2 separate regions of the Homo sapiens genome follow, and region 2 is linked to region 1. The links come from fine-mapping of genetic effects on gene expression. Tissue or cell type: pancreas. Region 1 holds a variant in brackets; the other region holds the start of a gene. All regions are shown on one strand. Distances are between the middles of the regions.

Region 1 (8,105 bases):
GCACCCCGATTTCTGTCCTGTCAGAGAAAGCCCACAGGTCTTCATCTGACCGTGACAAACTTCAGTGAGGCTTTTTTGTTGTTGTTGTTTTGTTTTTACCAGGATGAAATCAGCATAGTGAGGTAATAATACTGCTGGCCTGTGGGTACTGGGGCTCATGCAACATGAGAAAAACAACCATTACCAAGGCATCAAGTTGGTAGGTCGAGTCCTTCCACATGTGAAGGTGCAGTAAGTAGGGCTGGGAGTAAATGAACAATAAAATGCATCCTTTATGGTGCAAAGGACAGGAACGCCCTGCATCAAGGAATGGGGAAACAGGGCAAGGAAGACAGCTCAGAGCCAATGAAAAGAAAACCTACTAAGCACACAGTGTTGTGCTGGTCCAGCGGTTCTCTCCATGTTTTTGGTCTTGAGGCCCCTTAAAAATTATTGATGGCCCCAGACTTCTGTTTATGGATCATTATCATTTTATAAATTGAAGCTGAGAATATTTTAAAAAGAAGAATACACAGCACACATCCCAACAGCTGTCAGAGCCAGTAGCCTTTGGAAACCATGAGGGTGAGAAAATGAGAGTAAAAAGACAAATAACATCTTGGTATTTTCATGAAAACAGTGTTGACCTCAAAGCTACCCTGAAAGGGTCTTGCGGACTCCTGGACCACACTTTGAGAGCCACCGTGCTAGGCTGTTGATTCTAGTCTAGCTCATTTCATTCTCTTAACACTGAAATGTGTGTGATTACTATACCCATTTGACAGGGGAAGAAACTAAAGATCAGAAAGGCCTAAGTAACTTGCCCTAAGTAATCTTGCAGACCAGGATTTAACCCTGCTCTCTCTGCCTCCAGAGCCTCCGTTGGAACAGAGGACTTGACCATGGGAGGGCCAGGCCCAGGAGGGATTAGCTGGAGAGTCCCCAGGCGGTCACAAGGGTCCCCGCAGTGGGAGGAAGGAACCGTCGCCTCGGGAGCTGACTGGCCATGAGAAACTGCAGTACCCAGGCTTACCCCCACTGCGAAATGGGCCCGCATCCTTGACATTATGGTCTGGGAGAGGGAGGCAGCCTGGAATGGAGACCTGTCCGCCAGCGCGAGCTTTGCCATCTGCTGATGTTGAGCGCTTGGCCAGGCACCCCTAAGGGGTTGGGCTAGCGAGTGTCTTAGAGCAAAACACCATGGGGACTCCCCGCCAGCCCTGAGCTCTCAGTCCTGTATCCGGACTAGAATCTCAGGGTTGTCTCGTCAGCTGAGGGTGGGAGATGGGGCTGCATAGCCTGAGAGGGAAAACAGCTCTATTCTCACTAGCCCACATGGGCAAAGATCAGCCCAGAGAATCTGGGGCCTTTTCCAGGACCATAATAGGTGATTTCGCTCCAAAGCCTGCCAGTGGGATTATCAGTTTAAATCCACCGAGAGTAAGTTTTGTATTAGAATAGCATTCCATAGCTACTGCTGGCCTTCCACTGGGGAGCTCTGTTTCCAATCTCAAAGATGTCAAACAATTTTAAAGGCACAGAAGCTCAGTTTTACCCAGCCGGGCAGGCAATGGCAGAAGGCATGTGACTGCCAGCATTCCCACAGCAAATGCACAATGCAGCTTCACAACAGCCCCTACCCCAACCCTGACCCCAGACTCTGGTCTCTATTCTGCTTCCAGCTCCAAGACGGGCTGGAGGAACAGCTGGTCCAGAAACCTGGGGTGCCCATAACTACCCACTCAGACCTTCTGTGGGGTGCATGACTGTCCACGTCCTCAGGGAGGCCTGCATTTGCTTATTTAGACACCTAGCTCCTGGGCACACTCTCTGGAATCATAGGCCACTGCCAGGTCCCCCATGCCCATGGCCACGGCATTTCCTGCCAGCCTGGCATACTCCTCATGCCACCTCCCAGGCAGGGATGGCCACCCTCTATGAGCAAAAATAACACTAACAATAGCTCGCATTGTGAAGTTCTTCCCACTGCACACTTCTCATACCCTGTCTTGCTGGAGCTTAACAAAAACTTTACAGGGTTTGCAAGTGATAGCCCATTGTCCTTCTTCTTTATAGATGAGGAAGCTGAGGCTTGGTGCATGAAACGGGGTGTCTAAGGTCACTCCATGGGAGAGCTGGCACTAGGTCCCAGGTCTCCGTCTCAGCCCAGGGTTCCCTCTGCTGTCTGGCATTTTTGGGGTGAGGTGCAGAGCAGAAATGGTGCAGGGCACTGAGGCTAGAAGTGTAGTGAGCCCAGGGCCCCTCTCTTGCCTTTGTCTCATCACTGGTGGCCACCAGCCATGAGTCCTCGAGGGATCATTCTCTGAGCTTAGAAACACACAAATCAGGAGTTTCAATCAGCTAAGCAATGTTTCATTTTAATTTTCTTTTCTAAATTTAAATTTAATTAAATATTAAATTTAAACTTAAATGGAGAGATTTAAATTTAATACTCAAATCTCTCTCTCCCTATGCCTCCTGTTCCTGGTTTCTGGAGTAAAGAGCCTGCCTTTGGCCATCTCAGGAGCATTGGTGGGTGAAGCTCATCTTTGGGATCCTTCTTGGGATGTGGCCGTGGCCTCTCAGCAGGTTATTTAGCAACACGACTGGATGAAAGAAACCCTCCAACTTTCCAGACATAATGTAATAGGCCCTGTGTCCTCCCTTCCTGGGCTTGGGTCATGATGAAAAAGAGGGCTAACCTCACTTTTGGGACCTAAGTGAGGTTAGCCCTTGTCTTGGTAAAGCCACTTCTGGGAAGCAGCAATTTGCCCAGACCAGTGGTAAATGTTGGGGTGGTCCTACCAGGCACAGGCCTGGATGACCTCCAGGGCTCCCCGCCCCCAATTCTGCAGTGGTAGGAGGCAAGCCTTAGCACTTAACAGGCTGTTGCTGGACAAATGGGGCCCAAAGCAGGGGGTGGAAAGGGTCAGGCAGCCAGAGGGAGCCACATGAGGCCTCAACAGTGGGATCCCAGCTTGATCCAGGTGCCATCACCTCTGGCTCTTTACCCAGAGGAGTGGTGTGCAGGGAAGGAATCTCATGCAGCCTGGCCGAAGACACTGGGCTCCACATTGAGTTGCTCTGTCAGGAAAGACCTGATACATGAGTGTCACGGAACAGTACAGAGGACCCTCCAACCAAAGTCATGATCTCGCCACTCAGGGTTGGCTGGCTGTCCCAGCAGTTACAGGATTCTGAAGTGGACTTGGGGTGGAGAAGCACTCACATGGGCGCTCAGAGATTCTTGCCTCTAGTAAAGAGGAACCTCACACGTCTATGTCCGGAGAGATTCCGCTAAGAGGCTGCTGGAGCCGCTCTCTCGGGCTGGACAGAGAGCTGGTGGGTGACTCCAACCTTCCTTTGGGGGCCAGCTCCTCCCATTGCCCTGCTAGGAAAAGTCCTCGGGAATCTAAGGAAAGGCACTGTACCAAGCAAATGGCTCAGCTTTGTGCTATGAAGGCCAACCTTCCCCTTGACATCAACTCCTCTCTTTAGACCTGTGTACTCAGCCCTCAAGCTCCCGTGGCAGTGTGAGAACAGCACGCTTTATCCTTCACTCTTGGCCGTTTGGGTGCTGGGGTTGGCAAAGGTGTAAACTGCTTCCTGCGTCACCATTTGTGAATCAGGGGCTGAT[G/A]GCTCACAGGCCTAAGGTGATCAGAAGCAGGTGGGACAGCAGGTGAGTAAACAAACGGCTGCAAGAGAATGTGATCTGTCCTTCATGGAGGCGAGGACAAGGTGCTGGGAGAGTGGGGGTGGTCATGACTAATGCTGTGGGAGCAAAAGAGGCTGTGAGGGCATGATGCCACCATAGTCTGCCATGGGTACTGCCTGCTTAGAAGGCTGACAGACATCTGGGGAGGCCCGGAGAGGTAAATGGGAAGACAAGGGCTAAAAGGAGGAGTCAAAGGGCTGCCCCAACATGTTAATAACTCCTAATATGGCTCCCTGGGTGGCAGGCCTGACCCTTGCCCACTCCTGAGAGCAGATTCTCAGAACAGGCTTCTAATGAAGGTGTGAAATGAGTCAGGGTCATTGGGTGCAAGTAACAGAAACCAGTGGGCCCATGTAAGCTAAGAAGGAATCTATAGGGAAGATGTTGAGGTGTTCACAGAATTGGCAGAACTTTTTGGAGAAGCTGGGCTTGGAAAATAGATAGGAACCAAGAGAGGCTGGACAGCAGCCAGCAGGTCAAGCGCACGTCCCAGAAACACCTGCCATTGCCAGAGGTCACTTTTCAATTATCCCTGCATCTTGGCATCTTTCCTCCAAGGGTCGAAGTTTCAAATGACAGAAACATGAATCCCAACCCCCGCATATGGCTGCCAGAGGGCAGGGAGCAGGCCTTTCTGGGTCCTGGTGTCTGGGGAAGGGAGGCCTGGACGCCTTAGGGACAGACATCTGGCTTTTCTCCATGCAGCCTTGCAGTGGCTAGAGAGCTGCTGACTTTGGGGATTGGGCAGCAGTTGCCAGGAGGAGGCATCCATTCTCCGAGGGGTTTTACTCCTCCTAAGCTATGGAAAAGTTCAGTAACAGCCCAGGGTTGGAGGCATCCCAGGGTCCCAGGTTGGGAGAAGGGCAGAAGTTACTTTTCTAGTTTCTGCCTTTGCTAATAACTAATTCATTTCTTTCTATGGCTTTTTGAGAAAATATCTTGTTATCATCTGTATAGAGATCCTACTGTGTACAGCACAAGGTAGAGGTAGGGAAATCCTAAACAGAGCATAATGAGGACTCCTCTGTAAAGGAATTTTCATGACTGAAATGTATTAAATGCCTACTGTATGCCAGGTGCTGGGTTAAGTACACTTTTATGTGGCAGGGAGAAGAATATATTCTAAAACCTTGCTACACACTATATGTAATAACCTGAAACTGGAAGCTACCCAAATGTGCACCAACACTAGAATAAATTATAATAAATTAATATATTGGAATACTGTGGTACAGCAGCATTCTTGGAGCCTGGTCTGCCCCTGTGGGTCCCTGTGATCCTTTCAAGGAAGCTGCAAAATCAAACCTATTTTCATAATAATTCTAAGATATTATTTGCCTTTTCCACATTGATGTACAAAAGCAATGGTAGGTAAAACTGCAGGTGACTTAACACAGATCAAACAATAGCACTAAACAGAACTAGTAGTCATTGAATTATTCACTCCCATACATCCTCACTACAGATTTTCCAATTTCACTGAAGATTGCATCTTGACGAAGCAGTAAAAGTTATTAATTCCAGTCAGTCTCAACCCTTGAATGCATGTCTTTTTAATATTCTGTGTGACAAAATAGGGAGTTTGCATAAAGCACTTCTGCTAAATACTGAAGTACAAGGGACGTCTTGAAGAAAAGCATTTGTGTGATTGTGTGAGTTGCAAATGGAACTAGCCGCTTCCTTGTATGTGATTCTTGGTGTGCAAGTGCAGCGACTCTTTGTTTGGGATGCAATTTCTAGGTCATAGAGTATGTGGATGTTCAACTTCATGAGAAAATATCAAACTGTTCTCCAAAGGAATTATTAGACCTTTACAGTTTTTTGGCCAAATGAAATGGTCTTTCATTTTGGTCTGGATTTTTGTTTTCCTAATCATTAATGTGGATGAATGTTCACTGGCCACACAGATTGCCTGCCACTGCTAATTTTGAATCAGCCTAGTCAGCTAATGTCACAGAATACAGCAACATGAGCACAGGTGGTACTAGTCAGGGATGGGAGAGGTGGTTTAGTGCGACCGTATTTAATGTGTTATAAGATGCCATCAGTTATAAGATGCACCATCAGCTTAACACAGATTTACTGAAAAAAAGTCATATCGAATTAAACACTTTTTTAAAAACAACTAATATTGTACTGTATCAGTCCATTTCACACTGCTATAAAGAACTGCCTGAGACTGGGTAGCTTATAAAGGAAAGAGGTTTAATTGACTCACAGTTCCGCAGGAAACTTACAATTATGCAGAAGGTGAAGGGGAAGCAAGGCATGTCAGGCATGTCATACATGGCAGCAGGAAAGAGACAGTACGCAGGGGAAACTGCCACTTTAAAAACCATCAGATCTCTGAGAACTCCGTCACTATCATGAGAACAGCGTGGGGGAAACTGCCTCCATCATCTGATCACCTCCCACCACGTCCCTCCCCCGAAACGTGGGGATTACAATTCAAGATGAGATTTGGGTGAGGACACAGAGCCAAACCATATCATGCACATTTATCTGTATAATCATATAGCATTTTCTTTTTTAATATCACCATCGACTCTAAATTTTTTTCACATTTACAGTCTGAAGACTCTTCCCAGTTGAGGCAAGTACTGTCATAGAAATGTAGACTTATGGAACCTGTACCCGTGAACTTGACATCCTGAGTATACTTAGTAGAGACAGTTAATATGCCAGGTTTTGCATGCATTTCCTATTTGGTTAAACTCATGGTTTCATTTTCTCTGCAACTGAATTACATATCACTGGAAATTTGGAAGTCACCCAGATACTTTTGACAGATGGATGTGCAGTATCTAGTGATAATCTTTCACAGGGCACAAATTAACCACAGCAGCCTCTCCCAGCTCTCAATTCTGCAATCTCCTTGGAAAGATTTAGCTAAGTTTGCATAACTCAGTGATGAAAACCATGTCACAACTCATTCCTCTATTTGCTGCTAGTAAATTTGGGTTGCCATCAATTAAAAGACACAACCCAATTTCAGAAACGTTCAGAAGTGAAAGAGTGTGCATCTTATTTTTCCTCTAATTATCTAGTAATTAAATTTTAAATGTGTATATATATGTGTGTATATATATGTGTGTGCATATATATAGGTGAGTGTGTGCACGTGTGTGTGTGTAAGTGTAGCCAACATTTATTAAGCATCTACCAGGTGATAACTTCCACGACTCCATGTCAGGGACTCTCCATTTATTATCGTTAATCTTTACAGTAATTTTGTGAGGTAGGTAACATCCTCATTTTAAAGGAAACTGAGGTTCAAAGGGTCAAGATAACTTGACCAAGACTCATAAGCTGCAGAATCAGAATTCAAATCTAGGTCTATCTAACTTCAAGGCCAATAAGCTTTCTACCACGTTATGAATCTCTTTTTTAGGTACTAAATTCCATGGGCCACTACTAGGTAAGACCTCGAATGAATTATTGCCAACTCTGCCTGTTATGTTTCTAAGGTTGGATGCCTCCCTTTAGGAAGAGGTTACTGGCAGGGACAATGGAGAGATTTACAAAAGAGTTGAGCAATGTTAAAAATAACAACAAGGTATTTGCTCCTAATCCTGTTAAGCTCCTTTGAGCTCTGCGCAAGCCGAGAAGGGGAGGGCATGTTAATTTGCTTGCGTACAGGTGCATCTAAGGTTGCTGTTGCAATCTCCACATCTTCCAACCTTAGCCAGGGCTTGGTGTCACTTTTTCTAGTGTTCATGGGTGCAAAACCCTGATTTGTTTTATTATGATGAACAATCATAAAACTGATGTGCTAATGTCAATAAGGAGGCTCAGTTTCAGCCCTGGAAATGTACTTCTTTTGATTAAGAGTGCCCTGGCCAGGCACAGTGGCTCACACCTTTAATCCCAGCACTTTGGGAGGCTAAGGCGGGTGAATCACGAGGTCAAGAGATCGAGACCATCCTGGCCAACATGGTAAAACCTCATCTCTACTAAAAATACAAAAATTAGCTGGGCCTGGTGGCGCACACATGTAGTCTCAGCTACTCGGGAGGCTGAGGCAGGAGAATCACTTGAATCCAGTAGGTGGATGTTGCAGTGAGCTGAGATCGCGCCACTGCACTCCAGCCCAGTGACAGAGCAAGACTCCGTCTCAAAAAGAAAAAAAAAAAAAAAAAAAAAAGTGATGCGTGGTGGTGTTGAATCAGACTCAGGGGTTTGTATTTTTTTCAGTCTCCAAATTACATACAGGTCCATTTGGAGCTTCTACAGACCTGAAGAGACCTGGGGGGCGGGGGGAGGGTTCTCTAACATCAGATACAACAACCCCTAAGCTATCTTGCACAAGTAAAAACTTGTGGGTACTCAGACTTTGCTGAAGGAGAGTGTTCCTTCATCATCCTCAAATGCATGGCTTAGTTTGGCCAGTCACAAACTTTTCATCACCAAA
Region 2 (8,105 bases), 160 kb after region 1:
TTGCACACAAAAGGTGTCCAATAAATATTTGGAGACATTTGTCTTACCCTATCACAATACTTATATTCATTCTTCATGAAATAAGACACAGAGCCCATATTTTGAATGGAAACAAGATCTTTTGAACCTAGATTTGTTACTTTACCTTCCCAGACTTTCTTGTAAGTCAGTAAGAAAGCTGGACTTGTCAGTCATAAAAAAAATTGTTCAACAAACATTCATTGAGAAATGACTGAATACCAGGCACTGGAGAAATCTGGAAATTCCAAGCATGTTCGTGGTGATCACGTAGAGCCTCTAGGCCAAGAATGTTGAATGTTGTGCAGGCTGTCATGCCACCATGATTTGGTAAGCTTTTTACTTTCAAGGAATATAGACTCGCTTATGTAACCTCAAGAAATACAGGGGGTTATTATAAGGACCCCTGGAACTGAAATTTGGTCATATTCTCCCAATCTCTTTCTCTAAATGGTGCTTCTGTTTATCTTGATATGCCTGCTTCATTCTTTCTCTATAATCACTTCTCTGCTTTTTCATAACTTAGCTGATGCATGCCTATTGTGCTGTATTAGTCAGGAGAAGCTAGTTATGCTTCAGTAACAAACAACCCCCAATCTCAGTGGCCTAAAATAACAAAGATTTATATCTTATTCTCACTACATGTCCACCAAGGGTTAGTTGGGGGGAAAGAGGGAGCCACTTGAAAACCCACAATGACAGAGCAGCCACAGTCTTGAAAAATGAACATGGTTAGTCGTGAGCTCTTTAAGTATCCACCAGAAGTCATTTCTGCTCACGTTTCCTTGGCCAAAGCAAGTCAAATGGCCACAGCCAACTTAATTGGGTGGGATGTACAATGCTACCACGACATTGACTGGGGAGAAAACCTAAAAAATTGTGAATAACCTTAATCACTTTTACACGTGGCATTTCCAGCCCGACACTGCAATCCCTTTTTGTTTCAGCAGCCACGGCTAGTGATTCCCATTTTTCACGTTCCTTAATTCAAACTGCAATGAAAGAAGCTGAGTGGCCCAGTTCATCATTGCCTGACAAGCCACAACGCCAAGTCCCTGGTTAGTATTTAGATCCATCCTTGAGTTGTGGCCAATCAGCCAGAGAACAGGGATACACACTACATACAGCCTGTGACTGTCCAGCCTACCTCTGGAGAGGACCAGGAGACCTGTTCACTACAGAAGAATGTGTTATTTAAGTCATGACGTTTTGCTTGTCCTAGCTTTGTCTTAGCCCTTGGTGACAAAAAGGTCATGGGTGGTATAGCCCATGAAGCTGACTTGGGCCTGACACATGGCAGAATCTCAACATGGGTTAAAAGAAATGATTGAATTCAGGACCTGCTATGTTAACCCATCAGTCTAGAGATCAATGATGTGGTACTAAGGGATTTTAAAAGTTAGCGTTGTATAGCTCCATTTCCATACTTTGACACCATAGGCTTCGACCTCTGAATATAGGCCCTAGGTGAGGGAGTCTGGGAGAGGAAGAGGTGAAAAGAAGAGACATCGATGGCTTTAAACTACACAATAAGGTCTGAATGTCTGAATCTGGAATTCAAGGCCCTTTATCATACAGCCCCAAGCTTCCTTTCCAGTCTCATGCCCCCATTCACCCCCAAAATCCTACTGTCCAACCACCACCAAACATTCCTTTTTCTTTCCTTGGCGCATACAACGGCCCTCCTCTCTAGCTAACTGCTACCCTTCCTTTAAAATCAGTTTAAAAGCCATCACCTTTTCAGAGAATTTTTTCCCATCTGCTCTGACCTAGTCATTTCTATTTCTTCCTCGTGTGAATTCTTAACACCTTTCTCATGCCAAACACCTGGAGGACATAGACCTGTGCTACTCATTCTTTGGATTCCAGAGCCTAGTACCTGCCTAGTATATAGCAGGTACTCAACAACCGTGTGTTTAATAAATTGCTTGTAGCATGATTTCATTTAAGGAAACTTTAATGAGTCCCTCGGCTACATATGGCACAGTAAGAAAAGAAAAGTCAGTAACATGTGGTCCCGCAAGGAGTTTCTCTAGTTCAGTTGCCTCTTTTTATAAGTGAGAAAAAAGGCTTAGAGAGATTGTAACATGGCTAAGGTCACACTGCAAGGAAGTGACCAGGCCAGGTCTGGATCCCTGGAACTGACTCCTAACTCCCTATTCTTGCCTCCTCTGCTGAGCTCCAACCTGGGGAGTCAGCTCCCTGGAGTCCACGCATCTGGATATCGTCCACATGCCTGGAACTTTGTCACTGTTCCGGTGGCTGGGTTGACACACCGTGATTAAAGGGCTCTGGTCAATTTCTGTGCCACGCAGCCCCTATGCTAATGGTCAGATCTAATGTTCTGACCATTAGGTCAGTGTATCTTTTCCCTCCTGGGCAGTTAGGTTAGTGGAAGAAACCCGATAAAATCTTGGAGAGGAATTTGATCATTCTCTGAAGGACTTACAAGTTGTTTGGCCTGCCTAATCTGCTCAGATACCGTCCGGGGAATATTTGGTAACCATGCAGTACAGACTGTGAATTATTCTGTGGGGACTATTAACAAGACCCTCACCAACCCTGCCTCAGCTGATCTCAGGGCTTGGGGGCAGCCCCCTCTCCTCCCCTCCCACTGAAGCTCTGAAAAAAAGCAGCCTTTCCCCCTTGGGAGATGGGAGGAGTAGTTAAAAATAAGAAGTGTTGGGGGAAATCCTCCTCCTTCCAAGCACAGCTCACACGGCAGAGCCTCCTCAGAGTTGCGGCTGCGGATGCAATGACTTAGCCAGGTTAACGCCGATCCCATGTTTTCCGAAACCTGGCACCTAAGCATCTAACATGGAAGGCCGACTCCCTAAAATCAGTGCAAGAAAAATGATAACAAGTTATATCTGGAGGGACCTCGGGGATTATCTACCCGCTGGATTTAAAGTTGAGGAAGCCGCGGGCAGCAAACAAGGTCTCACAGTTGCTGGTGGCAGAGTAGAGACCACAGACCAAATTGCCTGAGTCTAAACTCAATGTTCTTTCCCCTTAGACTGCCACCCGCACACACACGCACACATGCACACCTTTTTGGAGGCACTGCACAGCAAGCACAGAAGTACGCCACTGAGTCCTGTGTCCCTAAAGTATTTGACTGTCCCTCCGCTGGGGGAAAGGGCAGGCAGAAAACAAGACTCCGTGTGCTGTCGCTGTGCCGCCCCCTGCCTCTCTGACCCGCGCCCGCAGAGAAAGTCTCAAGAGCCGCCCCAGGCTTTCTCCCACGTTCTCCCTTTCTCTGCTGCAGTTGAGTTTCCAGAGCGTGAGCGCGCAGGATGACACCTGGCTGGCTGAGAGCTGCCGGGGAGGCGCTGGCGGGTGCCGAGAGCGCACTGACCCTGACGCGGGGTGCAGCACGGCTGGGAAGCCCCCGGGCCTTTGGCTAAGCGCGCCGGGGGACGGCACAGGGGGGCGACGCGCATCCACCACCTGGTCCGCGCTCTCCCGGCCTCCGGCAGCTCAGGGCGGGCTCGGTTGGGGACCCTAATGGCTGGGTGCCGGCCCTGGGAGAAGGGCACGCGGAGGGCGGAGGGTTGCGCCTCGGCCCCGGCTCGGCCCCAACGCCCTCTCCCTGGCGCGCAGGTTTAGAAACAGGGCGGCCTCTCCGGCCGCCGCCTCGGCGGCTCGGGTCCCCATATATAGTCATATCCACCGTCAACTGGGAGGCCGGCGGCCGGCAGCGAATGGGCGAGCGGCCCCCGCGGGAGGAGCGGGGAGGGGGCACGGGGCGGAGGGAGGAGAGGAGGAAGGGGGGCAGGAGAAAAAAGCTTTTCCAAAAAAGTATTGGCTGTCTTGAGGAATGCGGTCGCCCCCTTGGGAAAGTACATATCTGGGAGAAGCAGGCGGCTCCGCGCTCGCACTCCCGCTCCTCCGCCCGACCGCGCGCTCGCCCCGCCGCTCCTGCTGCAGCCCCAGGGCCCCTCGCCGCCGCCACCATGGACGCCATCAAGAAGAAGATGCAGATGCTGAAGCTCGACAAGGAGAACGCCTTGGATCGAGCTGAGCAGGCGGAGGCCGACAAGAAGGCGGCGGAAGACAGGAGCAAGCAGGTCTGCGCCTCCCCGGCCCTGCGCCCGCGCCCAGAGCGCCGGGACTCGAGCCTGGCACCCCCGGCTGGATCCCCACCCCGAGGACTCGGGGAGCCACCACCCTACCCCCACCACCACCCAGGGCGGCCAGGGCGCGCGTCTGGAAAGAAGGAAGGGAAACGCAAGAGCCAGGCTTAGTCTAACTTAGTCTGGTCTGAGGACGCTTATTTCCCTTCTCTGGTTCCCATGGCCCGCGAAATCAAGTCCTAGAGGCGCTTTATTCTCAGGACTGGGAATCAGTTTGGGGGAGGGAGGAGGACACCCGGTTCCTGGGGACGTTTGAAGGAAGGGCGAGGGATGGAGAAAGGGGGTCGAGTAACTCAAGTGTTAGAAGTTCGTTGACTTTTGACTGGGGAGAAAGGAACCTTAAACTTGGGGAGGAGAAGGGAGTCCTGGAGTTGTTACCTAAGAACAAAGATGGGGCGGAATGGAGGCTACAGCCCGAAAGCCAGGCCAGCAGTGGCGTTCTTCTGTGTCCCCAAGTAGTGGACTTGAGCCCGCTGAGACCTCGGCAGGAGTCTCGTCCCAGGGCAGGTGGGTGTGCGGGGTGAGCCGCGGAGCGGTTCCAGCTCGGGTAAAGAGGAAGTTACCTCGGGTCCTTTGCACTCCAACTCGGCGGCGCCCCGAGCCCGAGGGGCCCCAGCCAACCCGACGCCCGTGTGTTGTGTGTGTCTAACACCCGGTCCGTGCCGGCCGCCCGCGCCCGCCCGCCGCTGCCCCCAGCTCGAGGAGGACATCGCGGCCAAGGAGAAGTTGCTGCGGGTGTCGGAGGACGAGCGGGACCGGGTGCTGGAGGAGCTGCACAAGGCGGAGGACAGCCTCCTGGCCGCCGAAGAGGCCGCCGCCAAGGTACCCGGGGCGCGCGGCACGGCGTGGCGCACGAATGGCTAACTCTTTCTCTTTCTCTCTCTCCCTCCCTGTCTTTCCCTCTGTCTCTCCCGCTGTCCCTGTCCTTCTGGTTCTGTGCACCCACACCCCTCCCCTTCGGGATCACGCTGCCTGCTGCACCCCCCTCCCTCCCTGTACCCCCTGGCCAACTCCCAGCTGGAAGATGAGCTGGTGTCACTGCAAAAGAAACTCAAGGGCACCGAAGATGAACTGGACAAATACTCTGAGGCTCTCAAAGATGCCCAGGAGAAGCTGGAGCTGGCAGAGAAAAAGGCCACCGATGTAAGTGCACGCTCACACTGCTTCCCTCACCTCTTGCCTGCGTGGCCACTCCGGGGTCACCACAGGGCTGGAGAGCAATGAAGGAAGTTTACCTTTTCCTGCTGGACACCTGCACACAGCCCTGCCATGGCCCAGAGCATTGGATGCCGCCTCTGACTGCTACTGCACACATTCATTTATATTTCATCCACTCCTCTCTTCTTCTCCTTTCCTTTACCTCCCTGGGGGTGGAGGTGGGTGGATGAGAGGCTGGGAGAATAGAGCAGCTGAAATTGGACTCTGGAGGTGAACTTCACCTCCCTGGTGGCAGAAAACCCTTGAGGTGTCATCACCAAGGTTTGTGTAGAGAATGCCAGGTTTTCTTCACTTTCTTTCCTTTTGCCGTTTCCAGTGGGTGGGAAGTTCTGGGTTTGGTGGTGGGTCTAGTCAGGGTTCAGAGAACCTGGCCTCTAAATGAAAGAAATGACACAGCGGTACCTTTACTTAGATGGCTGCACTTCATGGTGGGGCACAGAGACACTTTGAGGCTTCCTTTCTCATTAGTGTAAGCCTTAATCCACCCCTTAAGATCTGCCTGGGAAGATGATACTTGCTTGGGTCTGCAGTCTGAAGGCACTAGATCCAGAAAGTAAGCTGTGAGTTATATATAGCTCAGTGCTTTATATGGTATAGTGAGCTAGCTGCCCCCTGCCCCTCCTGCTGGCCCCGCCCCCACCTGTCAGCCTTCTGACAACCACCACATAGTTGCAGGGGTGATGCACACAGCTAAGGCTCTCCTAAGCTCTTTGTCCACTGCCCTTTGGAAGCTTTTTAATTGATAGCTTGCCTCTTCTGCCTCGGAAAGTCAAGCCAAAGGACCAACTTCTTTTCACACCGTTGGATTCCATTCTAAAAGCTAATTAAGCCTAGAGGCCCAATTAGAAAAGAATTCCTTGGGAAGTTGGTAACAATTCCAAGAATGTGTGAGCACCAGGGAAAGCTATGCCAGCAGTTGAAACACCGAGAGCAACAGCAGACTTTTTTATATGAAAGTAACATGCAAATAACTGAAGGGTCTCAGGTCTTGAAATTAGTGAAGTCTTTTGTAGCATGAAAGGCTTGAGATGTATATCCAGGTGTGCTTTGTAAATGAGAACTCCAGAGACGACATTTAGGATCTGACAAAAAGAAATTTTCAGTGAAAATCAAGCTTCCTGGAAAGGGGATTTGGGGGGAAGCACTGATTTCGCTAAAACATTTAAATTCTAAACTACCTGGCTTTGGAAAAAGAGCCAAAAACCATATATGACTCTGAGCCTACTTTGTATAATGCAGATCAGATGCCTGCTCTATATATGGCTAAATGGAAGATGCCTGCCTCCCGCAAATTCTCCAGCAGGACGTTTATTTAGCTTTTTCAAAAGAGCTGCTAATAGATCAAGGAAAGATATTCCTTATAAGGAAAAGAATGCAGAGAATTTGAAAATAGCCCAGTAAGACTGAAGGCAAAAGAGGGAGAAAAAGGTTACTACAATTCTTAAGGGAAAAAAATAGGATAATAATTATTGTAACTATGTAGTGCTAACATGTCTTTATTGAAAAGTCTTGTTGAAGGGAGCGCTGGAATGGGGTGGGGCAGAAATGGGAAAGAAGTTATTTAAAGTCAGCTGGTGTGGGAAGCAGCAGGGGAGGGAGCTTCTTGAATCTTGTTTTGGTTATTTTTCCCACCGGGAAACTGCCCCTAAATCTGGCATATATGGCTTTTTTGATAGTGTATTGATCACATTCCCTTTTAGGACACTTTAGGTTGTCTGGAGTTTGGAGCCCGTAGGAATATTGAAGAAGTTAGTGAAGAAATGCTATACAGTCATTTGTTGATTAATGAAGGGGGATAAGGTCTGAGACATGTGTCGTTAGGTGATTTATTCATTGTGCAAACACCATAGAGTGTATGGTACTTACACAAACCTAGAGGGTATAGCCTACTAAACACCTAGGCTACAAACTTGTACAGTGTGTTACTGTACTGAATACTGTCAACAATTGTAACACAAATCACCAGGCGATAGGAATTTTTTAGTTCTATTGTAATCTTATGAGGCTACTCTCATATATGCAGCCCCTCATTGACCAAAACATCATTATGCAGTGCATGACCATATTGAGAGTATTCGTTTTTTATTTACTAAAAAATAGTCAAAACTTGAGGAGGAAGAGACAGATGTCACTAGAAAAAGGGAGAAGTCCGGTAAGGGAGAAGTCAGCTTCCTGAGGTGGAATCGTATTACCTTTGGGATTAGGACATTTCATTGTCATTATTCACCAGTGTAAAACACTTTTACATTTTTCTACTATTATTACTAAAAACATTTTTCTACTACTTTACAAATCCTATTCTGGAAGTGGGCTCTACCTAGCTTAGAAGATTGTCATTCAGGAGTAGTATCCCTGATGGTCTTGTTTCGAATTTTGTGTTGTCTTTCCACCTAAGTCAAAAGTGAGGCTGAAGGGGATCGAAGACTCCATTTTTTTCTGGCCCCCAATCTCTTCCCCAGTAACTGTGATATATCTGATATTTATAGCATATGAGTCTTTATCCCTTTGTAGGTCTTTACTTCTTAACTTAGGGATTCTCAACCTTCTCTAAACATAATCACTTAGGGAGCTTTTAAAACCCAAAGTTAGGATGCACCCAAAGCCAGTTAAATCAGAATCCCTGGGGATGCAACCCAGGCGGCAGCATTTAAAAAATACCCAAGTGATTCCAACCTACAGACAAGGATGAGAAAACTCTCCTAAACTCTTGTATAATGACATCGGCATGAAAAT

Evidence for each region. PIP is the estimated chance that this variant, and not a neighbour inherited with it, causes the effect.
Region 2: TPM1 starts here. The variant in region 1 is fine-mapped to the expression of TPM1 in pancreas (GTEx, PIP above 0.99).

Annotation. Positions count from the first base shown.
Region 1 is chr15:62,873,977-62,882,081 of GRCh38, forward strand. All of the region lies in intron 1 of LOC105370854 (a long non-coding RNA gene), which reads right to left. Among named protein-coding and RNA genes, the nearest start is that of MIR190A, 54 kb to the left of the region's middle. RefSeq lists an enhancer at 1,400-2,238. The variant G/A (reference allele first, on the strand shown) is at 3,617.
Region 2 is chr15:63,038,856-63,046,960 of GRCh38, forward strand. It overlaps TPM1 (tropomyosin 1), which reads left to right and starts at 3,892. Exons shown (of 10, transcript NM_001018005.2): 1 at 3,892-4,088; 2 at 5,172-5,297. The coding sequence starts at 3,975. It overlaps TPM1-AS (TPM1 antisense RNA), which reads right to left. Exons shown (of 2, transcript NR_147233.2): 2 at 7,179-8,105. RefSeq lists enhancers at 2,836-3,750, 4,664-5,577.